2 separate regions of the Homo sapiens genome follow, and region 1 is linked to region 2. Evidence: fine-mapped expression QTL. A gene starts in region 2. The other region holds a variant in brackets. All regions are shown on one strand. Distances are from middle to middle. Region 1 overlaps CASC8 (cancer susceptibility 8). Region 2 holds the start of CASC8 (cancer susceptibility 8).

Evidence for each region. PIP is the estimated chance that this variant, and not a neighbour inherited with it, causes the effect.
Region 1: its variant is fine-mapped to the expression of CASC8 in whole blood (INTERVAL, PIP 0.99).

The regions. Positions count from the first base shown.
Region 1 is chr8:127,427,611-127,437,664 of GRCh38, forward strand. All of the region lies in intron 4 of CASC8 (cancer susceptibility 8), which reads right to left. Among named protein-coding and RNA genes, the nearest start is that of POU5F1B, 17 kb to the left of the region's middle. RefSeq lists an enhancer at 4,606-5,520. The variant T/C (reference allele first, on the strand shown) is at 6,131.
Region 2 is chr8:127,476,657-127,486,710 of GRCh38, forward strand. CASC8 (cancer susceptibility 8) reads right to left here and starts at 5,483. Exons shown (of 6, transcript NR_117100.1): 1 at 4,978-5,483; 2 at 4,072-4,415; 3 at 3,048-3,150; 4 at 2,427-2,514.

The DNA.
Region 1 (10,054 bases), 49 kb before region 2:
AATAAATAGATGTGTATTGTGACAAGTGTCAATAAGAGCTATGAAGGACAACAAAACATAGTAAAGAGATGAGGAAGGCTGGAGAGGCCAAGGCATCCATTTAAATAAGGTCATCGGGGCAAGGCTCTGAGAGGGTGGCATGGAAGGGAGACCTGAAAGAAAGGAGGGAGAAACCACATGTTTTCGTTCCTCTCCACACACTGCCACCAAACTATTTCTCCTATAGCCTTCCCAAGCTCAGTAAATGATAATTCCACTCTAGGAGTTTTCCAGCTCAAAAACCTCACTGTCAGCCTTGACTCCTTCCTTCACACCCATGCCATGCCAACTGTAGATGCAGCCAGCTCTGTGGATATCTGGGAAGGAGGCTTCCAGGTGGAGAATAGCAAGGTCAAAGGCTGAAGGGAGGAAGCTCCCTGGCCTGCTGTGGACAGTGAGGAGGCCGAGATGCTAGAGAAGGACAGTGAGAGAAGGCCAGAGGATCAGCTGAGGTCACTCACCTGGGACTTTGTGGACCAGATTAAGGAATTTTTAGTTTTCCTCTCAGGAAGAAGGGAAGTCATTGGAGATGTGTGGACAGAGGAGTGTCATGCTCTGAATTGTGTTAGAAAGGAATCACTCTGGCTGCTCTATGGAGAAGAGACTAGAAGGCCAAGTGCAGAAGCAAGGGATGCATCAGGAGTCTCTAGTGACAGATCAGCTGCGAAGCCATGGTTGCTTGGTCTAGAGTGGCCATAAGAGAATTGATGATAAGACATTGTTTAAGGGTAAATTTTGAGGCCAGAGTTGGTTGCCATTGCTGTTGGAATAGGCTTGGATGTGAAAGAAAGGAGTCAAGGCTGACAGTAAGGTTTTTGACCTGAAAAATTCCTAGATTAGAATTATCATTTACTGAATTGGGGAAAGCTATAAGAAAAGTAGTTTTGTGGTGGTGAGATGGGAATGGGGCAGTGGAACCAAGAGTTCATTCATTGAATAAATATGTTACTGAGACTCTCTTGTGCCAGACGTCTTGCTTAGCACTGGGAATACACTGATGACTAGACAGAAACAGGCTTTGCTCTCATGAAACACAAGTAGCACAAAGAGACAACATTTATTGAGTCCTTACTAGGAGACAAGCACCATGCTAAGTACTTTTTATTTAATGAAGCTGACTGTCTGGTAGGAGAGACAGTCATTAAACAAGTAACTATTCAAATATTTATTTAATTATGAGTGGAAAAGTACAGAGCATATCCCTGTGTATAATTTGGGAAAACTGCTCCCCAGGCTCCTTAGGGAAGGTGATACTGGGCTAGAGCAGAGGAGCAGCATTTTTGAGAATCTGGCCAATATGGAAAGATTTGCTGACATATTCAGATTTGAGACTTTTTTTTTTTTTAGACGGAGTTTTGCTCTTGCCACTCAGGCTGGAGTGCAGTGGCACAATCTCGGCTCACTGCAACCTCCGCCTCCCAGGTTCAAGTGATTTTCCTGCCTCAGCCTCCCATGTAGCTGGGAATACAGGTGCCTACCCACAGGTCCGGCTAATTTTTTGTATTTTTAGTAGAGACGGGGTTTCATCATGTTGGCCAGCCTGGTCTTGAACTTCTGACGTCAGGTGATCCACCCGCCTTGGCCTTCCAAAGTGCAGGGATTACAGGCGTGAGCCACGGCACCCGGCCTGGAGACCACTTATTTTGCAAGCATGTTGCCTCCCCTCTTATCTCTGGGAGTGGGGAGGACATGACCTTCTGTGTGAGTCCATGGATTCAATGATCAGAACCTCCATGACAGAAATTCCAAAGTGGTCTAGAATCTCTGCCCAGGCCATTTCTTGGCATGGCAGGCTATCCTCTCTGCTCCCTGCCTACCTATCCCACTTGGGCCAATCCAACAGGAAACATCTAGACTGCAGAAGACAACGACTTCTCCCTCTGACCACCACACTTCTACGTGAACCCCATTCCTAGGCTCCAACTTACCTCTCCAACCCCATTTAAATGTGTTCCATTGAGCCTCTGATCATGTCTCATCTTGTATGATTCTGAAATTTATCTGATTGCTTGTTTCCCAGCAATACTGCAAACCCCTTGAAGACAGGGATGGGTGCCTTGTTCTGCTTTTGTATCCCCAACAGGCATCACAATGCAAACTGCTCGGGGCTGATAACATTTGAGTGAGAGACTGTGAGCCAAAGACCTTGACATCATTTAAGAGAGGATGTTTGGAAAGAAAATCATCTTTTCAACACACAGAATTCAGCCTGACTCAGGCTAACCAACATGCCTGTGCAGCTAGGAGATATACCAGAGTGTCAGTTTATTAATTTTCAATGGGGGGAAAGAAGACAAAAGTTTCAGGTTGGTCTGAGTTGGTGAGTTTCCTTCCCTGAAGCCAAGTCACAGGGGAACCAAATCATGATTGGAAACCATTTTATTTTTATTTTCTCTCTATGAGAAGCTACATTGGCAGGAATCAGAAAATAATTGAGCTCCTTATGAGGTAGTCTGTTAGAGGACTCATGGTAGCATAAATTGCTATCTATAACTAATGGGGTTATTTCTCCAACCTGGGTAACCTTATGACATTGTCCATGTATTTCAAGGCATCCAAATCTCTCCTTTGCTGGAAACGTAACACCACCCACTAGAGCTTACCAGATTAGCCTCTTTAGGCTGCAAAAGATGCCCAGTAAATGATGAACACACAGACATGGGGTTTTTGCTTCACTAGACATAGCCCAAAGGAACTAATTTATGCTTCCCTTTTCTTTTTGGCATATTTTGGGAGGCAACCCACCACCATGTTGATTTCAGACTTAAGAAGGAGAAATTGAGGGCCTGGGTGTTCTACAAACAAACTTTATCTATAGATAATTAAGTTTCAGACAACTAGCTTCAGCGACTACTAGAAATATCTTCGGATTAGCATCAACAAGAAACTTGAGCATTTAGAAACCATGATGATTTCAGGCATGCCCACAAGAAATTAAATGTTTCAGCACAAAAGGCAGGTGTTGAGTGTGTAGAACTGTTCAGAGTAAATCATTCTATTCTTTCTGCATAGTCCTCTATAATTGAAAAAGTCCTTTCAGAACAATTTCGTAGGGAAAGAAAACTTGCATTTTGTGCATCAGCTTTTGTACTTAGGCTTTTACATGTGTTAACACTTATGTTCCTTGTGATGGCAGATGAAGAAAATGTAGCTGAGTGAAGTTGAGTGGGTTGCTTATTGTCAACAAGTCCTGAGGGACAGAGTCAGTAATTGAGATCAGAGTTGGGGGCTCTTGTCCAAGCTTCTCCCACAACCGCATTCTGGGGCACTTCGTGGAGAAATGCCACTCAGCAATCTGCATTCAGCTCTGCTGTTGCTGTGGTTTTCAAATTGGCTACACATCAAAAAACACGTGAGAATCTTGTCAGCCACAGATTTCTAAGCCTCACCTCAGAGGTTCTGATTCTCTGGGTATGGCATGGGCCCCAGAGGTCTAGATTTTTGCATCAGGTAACTATGAATATTCCAGGTCCCTGCCTTCATACAAAGCACCATGAGGTGATAAGTATTACATTTTCTTGTTCCTGGTCCTAGGGTTCATATTTAGCTTAATTCTATAAAATAAAAACTTCGGACATTTAACATACCCTGCCTCATTTGATAGGGTTGTCCATGAAATTGAGAGACAGTGGAAAACTCATTGATCTTGCTATTTACCATGAGTCGTAGACCTAGTAACTTAGCCTCTCCGAGTTTCAGTGTCTCCATTATTGAAAGCAGGGCTTATAGTAACTACTCTCTAGAGATATGAAATTCAAATACCATAATATGTGTATTAGCTGTAGTAGTAGCCATTTATCAGAGCAGGAGATGAAGGGCACAGGTTCTATAGCCTGACTGCCTAGAGTCATATCCCAAAGCTTTCAGCTACTAACTGTGTGATCTAAGGGAAGTTACTTAACTGCTCTGTACCTTAGTGTTATCATCTATAAAATAAGAAATAATAATACTAGTACCAACTCAGAGACTATCAGGAGAAATAAATGAATTAATATGTAAAAGGCTTTGGCTGCATCACAGAGAGTTTGGTAAGTTGTGTATTTTCATTAATTTTGTCAGGCCTCTGAGCCCAAGCCAAGCCATCCCATCCCCTGTGACTTGAATACCCAGATGGCCTGAAGTAACTGAAGAATCACAAAAGAAGTGAATATGCCCTGCCCCACCTTAACTGATGACATTCCACCACAAAAGAAGTGAAAATGGCCAGTCCTTGCCTTAAGTGGTGACATTACCTTGTGAAAATCCTTTTCCTGGCTCATCCTGGCTCAAAAAGCACCCCCACTGAGCACCTTGCGACCCCCACTCCTGCCCGCCAGAGAACAAACCCCCTTTGACTGTAATTTTCCTTTACCTACCCAAATCCTATAAAACGGCCCCACCCTTATCTCCCTTCGCTGACTCTCTTTTTGGACTCAGCCCGCCTGCACCCAGGTGAAATAAACAGCCATGTTGCTCACACAAAGCCTGTTTGGTGGTCTCTTCACACGGACGCGCATGAAATTTGGTGCTGTGGCTCGGCTCGGGGGACCTCCTTTGGGAGATCAATCCCCTGTCCTCCTGTTCTTTGCTCCATGAGAAACATCCACCTACGACCTCAGGTCCTCAGACCAACCAGCCCAAGAAACATCTCACCAATTTCAAATCCGGTAAGCAGCCTCTTTTTACTCTCTTCTCCAACCTCCCTCACTATCCCTCAACCTCTTTCTCCTTTCAATCTTGGTGCCACACTTCAATGTCTCCCTTAATTTCAATTCCTTTCATTTTCTGGTAGCGACAAAGGAGACACGTTTTATCCGTGGACCCAAAACTCCGGCTCCGGTCACGGACTGGGAAGGCAGCCTTCCCTTGGTGTTTAATCCTTGCAGGGACGCCTCTCTGATTATACACTCACGTTTCAAGGGTGTCAGACCACACGCAGGGACGCCTGCCTTGGTCCTTCACCCTTAGCGGCAAGTCCCGCTTTTCTGGGGAAGGGGCAAGTACCCCAACCCCTTCTCTGCTTTTCTGGGGCAGGGGCAAGTACCCCTCAACCCCTTCTCCTTCACCCTTAGCGGCAAGTCCTGCTTTCCTGGGGGGCAAGAACCCCCCAGTTGCTTATTTCCGCACCCCGACCTCTTATCTCTGTGTCCCAATCCCTTATTTCCATGCCCCAACCTCGTATCTCTGCACCCCAATCCCTTATTTCCGTGCCCCAACCTCTTATATCTCTGTGCCCCAATCCCTTATTTCCACACCCCAACCTCTTATCTCTGCACCCCACCCCTTTTCTGGAAGGTAAGAACCCCCGAACCCCTTCCCTCCATTTCTCTACTCTCTCTTTTCTCTAGGCTTGCTTCCTTCAGTATAGGCAACCTTCCACCCTCCATTCCTCCTTCTACTCCCTTGGCCTGTGTTCTCAAAAACTTAAAACCTCTTCAACTCACACCTGACCTAAAACCTAAATGCCTTATTTTCTTCTGCAATGCCACTTGACCCCAATACAAACTCGACAGTAGTTCCAAATAGCCAGAAAATGGCACTTTGAATTTTTCCATCCTGCAAGATCTAAATAATTCTTGTTGTAAAATAGGCAAACAGTCCGAGGCGCCTGACGTCCAGGCATTCTTTTACACATCAGTCCCTTCCTAGTCTCTGTGCCCAGTACAACTCGTCCCAAATCTTCCTTCTTTCCCTCCCGCCTGTCCCCTCAGTCCCAACCCCAAGCATCGCTGAGTCTTTCTAATCTTCCTTTTCTACAGACCCATCTGACCTCTCACCTCCTCGCCAGGCCGAGCTAGGTCCCAATTCTTCCTCAGCCTCCGCTCCTCCACCCTATAATCTTTTTATCGCCTCCGCTCCTCACACCTGGTCCGGCTTACAGTTTCTTTCCGTGACTAGCCCTCCCTCACCTGCCCAGCAATTTACTCTTAGAAAGGTGGCTGGAGCTAAAGGCATAGTCAAGGTTAATGCTCCTTTTTCTTTATCCCAAATCAGATAGCGTTTAGGCTCTTTTTCATCAAATATAAAAATCCAGCCCAGTTCATGACTTGTTTAGCAGCAATACTGAGATACTTTACAGCCCTAGACCCTAAAAGGTCAAAAGGCCGTCTTA[T/C]TCTCAAAATGCACTTTATTACCCATTCTGCTCCCGACATTAAATAAAACTCCAAAAATTAAATTCCGGCCCTCAAACCCCATGACAGGATTTAATTAACCTCGCCTTCAAGGTGTACAATAATAGAAAAAAGTTGCAATTACTTGCCTCCACTGTGAGACAAACCCCAGCCACATCTGCAGCACACAAGAACTTCCAAACGCCTGAACCGCAGCGGCCAGGCGTTCCTCCAGAACCTCCTCCCCCAGGAGCTTGCTACATGTGCCGGAAATCTGGCCACTGGGCCAAGGAATGCCCGCAGCCTGGGATTCCTCCTAAGCCGTGTCCCATCTGTGTGGGACCCCACTGAAAATTGGACTGTTCAACTCACCTGGCAGCCACTCCCAGAGCCCCTAGAACGCTGGTCCAAGGCTCTCTGACTGACTCCTTCCCAGATCTTCTCGGCTTAGCAGCTGAAGACTGACACTGCCTGATTGCCTCGGAAGCCCCCTAGACCATCACGGACGCCAAGCTTTGGGTTACTCTCACAGTGGAAGGTAAGCCCGTCCCCTTCTTAATCAATATGGAGGCTACCCACTCCACATTACCTTCTTTTCAAGGGCCTGTTTCCCTTGCCTCCATAACTGTTGTGGGTATTGACGGCCAGGCTTCTAAACCTCTTAAAACTCCCCAACTCTGGTGCCAACTTAGACAATACTCTTTTAAGCACTCCTTTTTAGTTATCCCCACCTGCCCAGTTCCCTTATTAGGCTGAGACACTTTAACTAAATTATCTGCTTCCCTGACTATTCCTGGACTACAGCTATATCTCATTGCCGCCCTTCTTCCCAATCCAAAGCCTCCTTGCGTCCTCCTCTTGTATCCCCCGACCCTAACCCACAAGTATAAGATACCTCTACTCCCTCCTTGGTGACCCCTTACCATCTCATTAAAACCTAATCACCCTTACCCCACTCAACGCCAATATCCCATCCCGCAGCACGCTTTAAAAAGATTAAAGCCTGTTATCACTCACCTGCTACAGCATGGCCTTTTAAAACCTATAAACTCTCCTTACAATTCCCCCATTTTACCTGTCCTAAAACCAGACAAGCCTTACAAGTTAGTTCAGGATCTGCGCCTTATCAACCAAATTGTTTTGCCTATCCCCCCTGTGGTGCCCAACCCGTACCCTCTTTTGTCCTCAATACCTTCCTCCACAACTCACTATTCCGTGCTTGATCTTAAAGATGCTTTTTTCACTATTCCCCTGCACCCCTCGTCCCAGCCTCTCTTTGCTTTCACTTAGACTGACCCTGAGACCCATTAGGCTCAGCAAATTACCTAGGCTGTACTGCTGCAAGACTTCACAGACAGCCCCCATTACTTCAGTCAAGCCCAAATTTTATCCTCATCTGTTACCTATCTCGGCATAATTCTCATAAAAACACATGTGCTCTCCCTGCCAATCGTGTCCGACTGATCTCTCAAACCCAAGCACCTTCTACAAAACAACAACTCCTTTCCTTCCTAGGCATGGTTAACGTGGTCAGAATTCTTACACAACAACCAGGACCACACCGTATAGCCTTTCTGTCCAAACAACTTGACCTTACTGTTTTAGCCTAGCCCTCATATCTTCATGCAGCGGCTGCCGCTGCTTTAATACTTTTAGAGGCCCTCAAAATCACAAACTATGCTCAACTCACTCTCTACAGTTCTCATAACTTCCAAAATCTATTTTCTTCCTCATACCTGACGCATATACTTTCTGCTTCCCGGCTCCTTCAGCTGTACTCACTCTTTGTTGAGTCTCCCACAATTACCGTTGTTCCTGGCCCAGACTTCAGTCCGGCCTCCCACATTATTCCTGATACCACACCTGACCCCCATGACAGTATCTCTCTGATCCACCTGACATTCACCCCATTTCCCCAAATTTCCTTCTTTCCTGTTCCTCACCCTGATCACGCTTGATTTATTGATGGCGGTTCCACCAGGCCTAATCGCCACACACCAGCAAAGGCAGGCTATGCTATAGTACAAGCCACTAGCCTGCCTCTTAGAACCTCTCATTTCCTTTCCATCGTGGAAATCTATCCTCAAGGAAATAACTTCTCAGTGTTCCATCTGCTATTCTACTACTCCTTAGGGATTATTCAGGCCCCCTCCCTTCCCTACACATCAAGCTCGAGGATTTGCCCCACCCAGGACTGGCAAATTAGCTTTACTCAACATGCCCTGAGTCAGATAACTAAAATACCTCTTAGTCTAGGTAGATACTTTCACTGGATAGGTAAAGTCCTTTCCTACAGGGTCTGAGAAGGCCACCGCAGTCATTTCTTCCGTTCTGTCAGACATAATTCCTCGGTTAAGCCTTCCCACCTCAATACAGTGTGATAACAGATGAGCCTTTATTAGTCAAATCAGCCAAGCAGTTTTTCAGGCTCTTAGTATTCAGTGAAACCTTTATATCTCTTACGGTCCTCCGTCTTCAAGAAAAGTAGAATGGACTAAAGGTCTTTTAAAAACACACCTCACCAAGCTCAGCCACCAAAAAGGACTGGACAATACTTTTACCACTTTCCCTTCTCAGAATTCTGGCCTGTCCTCGGAATGCTACAGGGTACAGCCCATTTAAGCTCCTGTATAGACGCTCCTTTTTATTAGGCCCCAGTCTCATTCCAGACACCAGACCAACTTAGACTGTGCCCCCAAAAAAACTTGTCATCCCTACTATCTTCTGTCTAGTCATACTCCTATTCACTGTTCTCAACTACTCATACATGCCCTGCTCTTGTTTACACTGCCGGTTTACACTGTTTTTCCAAGCCATCACAGCTGATATCTCCTGGTGCTATCCCCAAACTGCCACTCTTAACTCTTGAAGTAAATAAATAATCTTTGCTGGCAGGACTATGCTGAATCTCCTTAGGCACTCTCTAATCGGATATCCTGAGTTGTCCCAATTCTTAGACCTTTTATACCTGTTTTTCTCCTTCTGTTATTCCATTTAGTTTCTCAATTCATCCAAAACCGTATTCAGGCCATCACCAATCATTCTATACGACAAACGTTTCTTCTAACATCCCCACAATATCACCCCTTACCACAAGACCTCCCTTCAGCTTAGTCTCTCCCACTCTAGGTTCCCACGCTGCCCCTAATCCTGCTTGAAGCAGCCCTGAGAAACATCGCCCATTCTCTGTCCATATCACCCCCCAAAAATTTTAGCCACCCCAACACTTCAACACCATTTTGTTTTATTTTTCTTATTAATATAAGAAGGCAGGAATGTCAGGCCTCTGAGCCCAAGCCAAGCCATCCCATCCCCTGTGACTTGCACATATACGCCCAGATGGCCTGAAGTAACTGAAGAATCACGAAAGAAGTGAATATGCCCTGCCCCACCTTAACTGATGACATTCCACCACAAAAGAAGTGAAAATGGCCGGTCCTTGCCTTAAGTGATGACATTACCTTGTGAAAGTCCTTTTCCTGGCTCATCCTGGCTCAAAAACCACCCCCACTGAGCACCTTGTGACCCCCACTCCTGCCCGCCAGAGAACAAACCCCCTTTGACTGTAATTTTCTTTACCTACCCAAATCCTATAAAACGGCCCCAACCTTATCTCCCTTCGCTGACTCTCTTTTCGGACTCAGCCTGCCTGCACCCAGGTGAAATAAACAGCCATGTTGCTCACACAAAGCCTGTTTGGTGGTCTCTTCACACAGACATGCGTGAAAAATTTCAAATAATATTTTATTTTTGCCTTAATTTTGATGTTTGCCCAGGAGTTATTCAGGAGTAAATTGTTTAATTTTAAAGTATTTGTATAGTTTTAAGAGCTCTTCCTGATATTGATTACTATTATTATTGCACTGTGATCCCAGAGTGTGCTTGGTATTATTTCAATTTTTTAATTTATTGAGACTTGCTTTATG
Region 2 (10,054 bases):
TGCCATAGCCCATGGATTGAGAAATAATTTGACTTTCAAACCTCATAATTTAAGAAATACATGTTATAAGGCTACAGTTGCCATAGATAGTGAGTCTTCTGATGAATCTGAGCAAATTAAATTGAAAACTTTCTGGAAAGAATTCAGCATTTTAGAGGTCATTAAGACTATTTGTGATGCATGGGAAGAAGTCAAAATATCAGCATTAATAGGAGTTTAAAAGAAGTGGATTCTAACCCTCATGGATGACTTTGAAAGCTTTAGTGGAGGCAAGAACTGTGGATGTGGTAGAAACAGTAAGATAGCCAGAATTAGAAGTGGAGCCTGAAGATGTGACAGAATTGTTACAATCTCGTGATAAAACTTCAGTGGATGAGAAGTTGCTTCTTATGAGCAAAAAAAAAAAAAAAAAAAAAAACAAAAAAATAGTTTCTTGAGATGGGATCCACTCCCAGTGAAGATGCTGTGAGCATTGTTGAAATGACAACAAAAGATTCACTACAATCAACTTAGTTGATAAAGCAGCAGTAGGGCTTGAGAAGATTGACTTCAATTATGAAAGATCTATAATACTATGGGTAAAGTGCTGTTAAACAGCATTGCAAGCTACAGAGAAATCTTTCATAAAAAGAAGAGTCAATCAATGCACTAAATTTCATTCTTGTCTTATTTTAGGAAATTGTCATAGCTACCTAACCTTCAGCAACCACCACCCTGATCAGTCAGCAGCCATCAACATTGAGACAAGACCCTCCACCAGCAAAAACAGATTATGATTTGCTGAAGGCCCAGGTTTATTATTTAGCAATAAAGTTTTTTTGTTTGTTTGTTTGTTTTTGAGATGGAGTCTCGCTCTGTTGCCCAGGCTGGAATGCAGTGGCATGATCTCGGCTCACTGTAACCTCTGCTTCCTGTGTTCAAGTGATTCTCCTGTCTCAGCCTCCCTAGTAGCTGGAACTACAGGCGCCCACCACCACACCTGGCTAATTTTTGTATTTTTAGTAGAGACAAAGTTTCACCATATTGGCCAGGCTAGAACTCCTGACTTCTGGTGATCCTCCTGCCTCAGTCTTCCAAAATGCTGGGATTACAGGGATGAGCCACCACGCCCAGCTAGCAATAAAATATTTTTTAATTAGGATGTGTACATTTAAGAATGGGCATGGTGGCTCACACCTGTAATCCCGGCACTTTGGGAGGCCGAGACGGGAGGATCACTTGAGGTCAGGAGTTTGAGATCAGCCTGACCAACATGGTAAAACCCTGCCTCTACTAAAAAAAAAAAAAAAAGTTTTTAAAAATTAGCTGAGTGTGGTGGCATGCACCTCTGTAATCTCAGCTACTTGGGAGGCCAAGGCAGGAGAATCACTTGAACTTGGAAGGTGGAGGTTGCAGTGAGCCGAGATCGCATCACTGCACTCCAGCCTGCGTGACAGACTGAGACTCAGTCTCAAAAAAATTAAAAAAGTAAAATAAGATGTGTACATGCTTTAGACATAATGCTATTTCACACACAGTAGACTACAGCAGTGTAAACATAACTTTTATATGCACTGGAAAATCAAAAACTTCACGTGACTTGCTTTATGGCAATATTTGCTTTATTGCAGTGGTCTGTAACCAAACCCACAATATCTCAAGTTATGCTTGTATATACATTTTTATAATCTCCTACACATAATATGGAAGGATAAGAAATTGAGGCACAAACAGGTTAAATATCTGTCTTAAAGCTGGGCAACTGGTAAATGATAGAGCCAGTATTTAAACTTGGCCATTATTCATTCATTTATTCACCGATTCATTTAATCATTAAACAAATAGTTATGGAGTGCCCATGAGGCATTATTTCCAGACTTCAACACTTTGTGGTATTATTCACTTGGCAAACTAAACTATTCTGTTGCTTAGACAAAGTGAAGGCAGACAAAGGAGGAAAACCAGAAGGGATTACAGGCTCTGAATCAAAGAAAGGCAGAAAAATGGAAGAGTGAGAGACAAGTTTCAGTTTCAGGTGAGATACCTGAAAGGGGAAAAATTCCTAGGGAATAGCTTTCCTCCTCCAGGGCTCCAGGTTGAATGAATTCCCTGAACTCAGGAACAAGCGTCAAGACTTGTTTTATTGGTATTTACAAAAATAGGTTTTAAAGGATCAGTGATTTGCAGATTCCAGTTGGATGTGTCACACACACACATCTCTCATTCCTCACGTCTAAGAGAGGGGAGAAGGAAAGACACGGCTTTGAAAGCCTAGATATTTTGAAAGGGGTGTTTTGGGATTTCAGCGATTTCTTTTTCCAGCAGCAACTGTATCTTGGACTGTGGTGTATCTCTCTTTCCCATCTCCCAGGCAGGTCAGTTAACCCTTTTGGGCTGTGTTCAATCAGGGTTAGTGCGTAATAAAGATCCTCTGCATTTAGAATTACCTTTTTTTAACCTCTAAACCCTCTTCAAGAGGCTGCAAACTCTTCAAAGACAGAAGCTGCTGTACGGATTTTTCACCTGCTTCAGTGCCTAGAGAGGAACAAGGGAGAGAAGGGGAGAGAAAAAGGAGGAAGGAAGAAACAGGAGCAAGGGATATCTACTTGGTACTTTACAAGGTAGTGTTAATGAAATACACTTAAATCAAGAGTTCTGGGTTCAAGTTCCAGTCCTGACGGTGCCTATACATCCTTGGGTCATCACTCAGACTCTCAGAGCCTCAATTTCTTACTCTGAGAAATGGAAATAATAATGCCTACTTCACCAGATCATTAGGAGAATTAAATAAGGTAATGTATTGGGTAACATTTTGTAATTGTGTGCTACTGTGTAAGTTAAAATTGTATGAAGGTTTAATAAAAGGAATTGTTCTTTAAGACTTCAAGGACTTTCTGTCAGAAGTTGAAACTAGAGGATTTACCAGGATGTTTCTGGCTCTATAGGGGTCATGTCCCTTTCCAAGATGCCTCAGTTGACCAGTAAACACATTCTTTTCAAGGCTTAATATTAAAATAGTATCAAATTCTGATCTAATCTGGATCAGAAGAGAAAATACTCCAACCTACCATTGTCAACCGCAACACTGGTTGTGTTTAATGGTGATGGAATTCTGTCACTTCCACCAACACTTTTTGAGCATTCGCTGCATGCGGGGCATTCTGGTGTATACTGATAAGAAACAACAACCAAAGATAATTAAGATTGACCTCACCCTCCGAGATGTTTACAGTTTACTTTGCTTCCCTAAGCTTCAGTTTTTCCCTCTGCCAAAACAGAAGCTCGGAAGAGATGTCTCCAAGACACTTTCTACCATGACCTTTTGAATTTCATAACTCTCTAATTCCAGAATTCAAAGAGTGACTGTTTTACCTCCCACTGAATGATTCCTCTGAGAAAAAAGCTCTCTGCTAGCTAAGCTAGCCAAGACACCATACCTGAAGATAATACCTAAACTTCTGTTTGTGTCCCAGGAATCCCAAATTGATGTCACACCAAAACAATGTCATTTATACAATTCATTATATGTCACTCATTAATACATTTGCTTAGTTGATTTTCATTAAAATCCTGCAGGGAGCATTATTACACTCATTTTTCAAAAGAGATAACTGAGTCGTAAAAGGATTAAATTATTTGCCCAGGTCACACGGAAAGAAATTAACGTGGCCACGGCATAAAACCAGATTTTCTGTTTTTAAACATATTTTTTTCGCTGACCTCCACCCTGTAAGAGCTTTTATTACCAAGCGATTGAGAAGCACAGGCTCAGGGACACTGAATTTGACCAAAGAAGCCAATAGAACTATTCCAAAAACCTATGGTTCCCCCTAAAGCATTAGAAAGACTCAGAACGGGTTAAGTGCTCCCTGGCTCATTCCCAACAGACACTACATTCACCTGTGCTTGCTCTGAAATAAATCAGTGTCCCTTTCTGCTGCTGCTGTTGTCTGGAAATAATGCAAATGCAATGGGCCTTTACTGACATTGTGCTTCCCTGGAAGGATACACATAATAAATTATCCCTTAATACTGTTAAAGAGACATTTTCCTCTTACTCAGGAGCTTTTGGGGTTGGACTGGGCTACTCACCCAGCAAGGAGGAGGACATGTGTCTTGTCACTGGCCCGGTTATTCATGTGGCCTCTCATTGCTCCTTGGCTCACTGCATTGCAAGATTCAAGGATGCACTTCCAGGCCTCCACATCAAGTCATAGGACTTGCCGGTAACCTAGATTGGTTTTCTCATTTGTAATTTGAATTTATTTTATGTTATGCATTTGTATGTTTATTTATTCGGATGCTCAGAAGCTGAAGATAACTAGTGCTCCTGGTCCATGCCATTCATCAATTGGAAGAATGCCAAGCTGTTTCCGCTGAGGACAGAAGGCATTGGTCTCCCCTGCAGGAAGCCACTGCTGCTCCTTAATTGTTTGCTAGAGGAAGAATCAAGGGTAAAATTTAAAGTAAATGGCTGGCCGAGTTGCACTAATTCATCAAAGCATGTTTCAAGTCAGTAGTCAGAGCATGCATCAGCCCCCGGCGCCACCAGCTTCTACGAGAGTGGAAAAGCCAGCAGACCTCCGAGCAGATGAAATCATTAGGAGGCATTCAGCAGGGCTTGAAAAGCAAAGAGAGAGGAGGCGGGGATTTCTCTGCATGCTCCCTTTGCCACATGGGAAACACCAGCTGTCTGTGACCTAGTTATCCAAGAAAGGAAACACGGAAGAGAACCCACAAAACTGTTTGCTACATGAGAACCCCATTCTCCAAAGACATGCTGGATGTTGAGAAAACAATTAGCATCTTCTAGTTTGACTCTATTTTTTTTTTTTTTTGCTTAGAGATTTTTGGTAGCAATAAAGACAAGCCCTATTACAGTAGCCTAAGAAAATGGAATTTTTAGGGATAGCCCATGGATAGGAAGTAAAAATCTTGGTTCATGAAAGATGGGAAGTAGGAACTGGAATGTTTTTGGAAAATCTATCAGCATCTCACCTCTTTCTCTTGCTCTCTCTCTCTCATTACATGGCCCTTTATTTGTGCAACAATTCATTTTCCTACTTCTCTATGAAGGTCTCTCTTCTTGCTTTTAAGCATGAAGCCACTCATTCATTCAGTAAATATGTATTTAATGCTAACAGGTGCTGGCACTGCCCAAGATGCCAGGGCTACAGCAATCAACAAAACAGACAAAATCCCTGCCCTCGTGAAATGTACACTGTGGTGAGGCAGGTGAGGCAGGCAGAAACTGAACAAGATAAATAAGTAAAAGATACAGTGTGCAAGAGGGCAGTGAGTGCTTGGAAGAAAAGATCAAGGGAGGAGAAGTGAAATACTGGCAAAGTAGTTGAAATCTTAAATAAAATGGTCATGGGAGACCCCACTGAGAAAGTCATTTCTGAGTGAAACCTGAAGGAAGTAAGAAGTTAGCATTGCAATTGTCTGGGGCAGAGCATGCTGAGGAGAGGGAATAGCAGGTGCAAAGGGCCTGGGGTGGTTCAAGGAGCTAGCAGAGAGGCCATTGAGGAAGGAGGTTAAGCAAGTGAGGGGGATTAGTTAGAGGTGAAGTCATAGACCTGGGGGCACAGATCACAAAGCGTTTTCTAGGTCATAGTGAGGACTTTGGCTTTTACTCTGAGTGAGATCAGAAGATCCCAAAAGGCCACCACAAGATGATATTCACGTGGTCCACCTAATCCAGTAGTCAGTCCTTATTGCTAACTTGCACACAGTCAAGCTCCCTTAGTCTCCAAAAGAGGAGATCCAAGCAACGATACTTCATGAGCAGTCGGCTTCGAGAGTCATCCTGAGTTTTCAAGGCTGACACAAATATCAGTCTAACTACGCAGTCCACCTGTGTAAATATTTGGGGAATAGTGGATGGTTAAGGAAGAGACCTAGTATGAGATAAAGTGTCCAGGCCCTGCACACATTTGGGTCTCACAGAATTAACTGGCAAATGCTAGTAAGAGTATCAGGACCTTAGGAAATAGAGATTCCTTTAGAAAACTCTAATTCCCAGAAAGATTTTCACATAAGACCTTCACACAAAGACAAAATTAGAATGTGTGTTCTCTCACCATCTCCTTATCCAGAGAGTCCTTAGATGTGGCAGAAGGACCCACAAGAGTTGTCAGAGGCAGTTGTGAGGGGTTGCCAGTCATGTTAGTATTAATAGATATCATGAGAAGTTAGACACGTTTTTGAATAAATTAGAATGAATTAAATATTAACCCAAAATGTCATTATGCTCACTCCCTACCCTCCCACTATGCTTTCCTGACAGAGAAAGAAAGGGTGGCACTGTGGCTGGAATACAGAGCCCACAGGACTTCAGCATGTCCTACACATAAACCTCCTCCTTTTTGTGACCCTTGGTGGAAAAAGTATGAGAGCCACGTATCTTAGAAATAACTGCCTTTCCTCCCTAGATGCCTGCCACAAAAACAGACATGTTCTAGAACTTTCTTCTCCCTAGTTCCAAGAACACTGAACTCATGGTAATGGCCAAACAATGATCTTTTTCTAAGGACAATGTCAGAATGCTTTACTGTGCCATTTTCATAATCAGACACAAGAAAGTTACCATCTGTAGTTCAGCCATAGCACTTCACATGAAAGAGGAAATGACTAAATATATATTTACATAGCTCTCATGAATATGCATTTTGTAAATGCACAAATATGTACAATTACTTGATAGACTGTTTTGGTTCCTATCTTTCGAATATTTAATACAACTGTAAATGTTTAATTCATATTTACTGAGTTGATTGAACAGTTTCTAAATTATCCCAAGCCTTGCTGGAAACAAGATTGAATGTTTCCAGCATATTTGCACACTAGGATTTGGCCAGGAGAATCCACACTAACTGGTTAAATGATGATTTTCTTAGAAAGCATATTGAATAAGCTGCTGGTGAAATCATCTTGCTGACCACAACATAGAGGGACAGCACCAGATCTAATTCCAACCATGACCTGCAGAGCCTCTCATGACTAGGCCCCCCTGATGCCTCTTTGCACCTCTGTCTGCACTGCCCCTCATTGCTAAGCCACAATCAACCCATGTTCCACTTTCAGTCCTCTGCACCAGCTGCTCCATGTGTCCAGAATGCTCTTCACATAGACATCAAGCCTTTGCTCTAATGTCACCTTTTCAATGAGGTCTATCTTAACCTCTGCATTTGAAATTGCAATCCCATCATCCCCCAGAACTCCTGATATCCCCTACACTCCCTTATACTTTTTTGTCTATAGCAACCACCCCTCACCACTTTATAACATTTATGCTTTGTAGTCTGTCTGTGTCCACTCACTAGAATTCAAATATCACAAAAGCAGGAGTCCACTTTTTTTTTCATTGAAAAACTCCAAATCCTAGAAGGAAGCTGGCATTTAATATGTGCTCAATAGACATTAGAGGAAGAAAAGAAGGAAGGAAGGAAAGAAGGGAGGGAGGGAGGGAGGGAGGGAGGAAGGAAGGAAGGAATGAAGGAAGGAAGGAAGGAAGAAAGGAAGGAAAGAAAGAAAGTCAAGAGACCTGGGCTCAAATCCAGCATGGGAATAAGTAGGGAGGAAAGAAGGGAAGTCAAGAGACCTGGGATCAAATCCAGCTTGGGCATGAGGCAAGACCAGAGCAGAGGAGATTGTCCTTGAGCTCAGGTGACGCCCATCTGGCCAACTCTCCACAAAGCTGGGTCACACTGTTTAGAGGACAGTTCTTGGCAGTAGTAGTAGTGCTGGTGGGGAGGGCTTTGTCATTATATTGTGTGCGTGTGGTGTGGGACTCTTCCTTAGTTCAGCTAAAGACAAGCTCCCTGTCACAAGGCCATGAAAGATTAGGCTCGCAGACAATTTGAAGGGTGAGAATAATGGGATTTATTGAGCAAAAGGAAAAATGGGGGCAGAACAGGGACGCAGCAGAGCCAGAGTCTTCCTAGTATGTGCTTCCTGCTTCACAATTGAATCCCAGCTACCACCCAGGAATAGGAAGGGCCAGGCTCTTCCCCACTGCAAATGGTGAGAACTTCTGTGGCTCCACCCCAGTGTGCACTCCTCCCAGTATGCAGGCTGGTTGGAGTTTCTCTGTGGACCCTTTCCCATCTGGCTGTCTCACATGCAAAATGGGAGTATTTGAATCTCCTTCTGAGAGTAATCTGAAAGTTAAATGAGGTAAAGCAAGTGAAAACATGCTCATGTATTAGGTCTAGGGAGGAAGCAAAAAGGAAGTAGAAGGATTCTCCTGAGTAGGGGATAATTCTTTTAGGGAGATGCTTACCCCAGAATTATTAATATTCAAGGAAAAGCCAGGAGCGACTATAAAACACAGCTCATCATTGCAGACCAAAGACAAAGCACCTCAAAATATGTCTACTACAGTAGGCATATTTTGCAGAAAAAAATTAGAGAAAACTACATCTCCTTGGAGTAAAGTGCCACAGGTATCCAATAACAGAAAATAGGAAAAGACATCATTGCAAACATAGGAAAATAGTAGATGAAGATGCAAGATCCTAAAATGTGTATTTTGGGCAGTTTGTGACAGATCAAGTCACATTTCTGACAGAGTGAGAATTAACCCAAAGCAAAATCAAGATATCATTTAAATGTAAAATGGAATGATAGACACAATTGAATAGGACAAGGAGATAATGTGAAAATAACAGAGAGGCAAAGGACAAAGAATAAAAATTAAAAGAAGGGGACTCACTCCAGAACCGAAACAAGATACCCCACTAATTCTCCTGTCTGCAGACATCACCAATATTCTGGTAAATAAAATTAATGATAATTACCAGAATGACACTATAGTTATCAATGAAGAGTGTTTGTAGCTTGTCATACGTGTGTGTGAATGTTCAAGGGGATGTTTAGTAAACGGTAAATAGTGTGGGTTCAGTTCTGCTCTGCTAATCCTATATGCCATAATTACAAGGTCTCAAATAAGTGCAAACCCTTCAATTATCAGGAAGAGATATCTGAGCCAAGTGGAACCAACTGACAGTAGCAATCAAAATTCTATCGCCCACAAGGGTGTGGGGGAAAGAAGTACTTTCAAAACTTTAGTGGCATTATAAACTGGCTAAAAATATATATACTTCTGGGAGGTAATTTTGCATACTTGCATATGCAAATATTCCTGTAAAAATGTGCCTAAAATTTATTCCTCTACTCTTCTCCATCCACCTCTGTAATACAACTTCTGGGAGTGCAGTCTACAGAAGTAATACAAAGATCCTGGGAAAACAATGTTATTTTGCTCATAGGTGTTTATGACCACATAATGTTTTATGGTAAAAAATAAAAAACAACATACATAATTATTGTGGGTATAGTTTAGGATTTCAAGATGCTTTTTTTCATTTTTATTAAACTTGGTGTGTAGACATATAATTTACACAGAGTTTTATACATTTTAAAAACGTAAATTTTTAGAAATGTATACAGTCATGTAACCATTGTCATCAAGGTATGTAACACTTGCCTGGAGTCCCAGCTACTGGGAAGAGTGAGGCAGGAGGAGCACGTGAGCCCGGGAGTTCCAGGCTGCAGTGCACTGTAATCATGCCTGTGAATAGCCACTGCACTCCAGCCTGGACAACATAATGAGACTTTATTTCTAAATTATTTTTTAATTTAAGAAAAGATATATAAAACTTGCATCATCTCGAAATTTCCTTCAAATAGTCAATACTCACTTCCTGCCCCAGGGAATCCGCTGGTATAGTTATTTCCCTATGGTTTTGCATTTTCTAGGTCACTATATAAATGAAATCATACAGTACACAAACTTTTGTGTATGCCTTTTTTCACCTAGCATGATGCATATGAGATTTATCCATGTTGTTATTGGGTAATATTCTACTGTATGGATGCAACAAAATTTGTTTATCTATTAACGATTCATTTTATTTTGATATAATTATTGATTGTCAGTGCATAATTATTAGTTATCTAAATTATAGATTTGAAAGATAGTACTGAGAGGTCTTGTATACCCTTCACCAAGGTTCCTTCTATGGTTCCACCTTATACAACTATCATACGATATCAAAATCAGGAATTGACA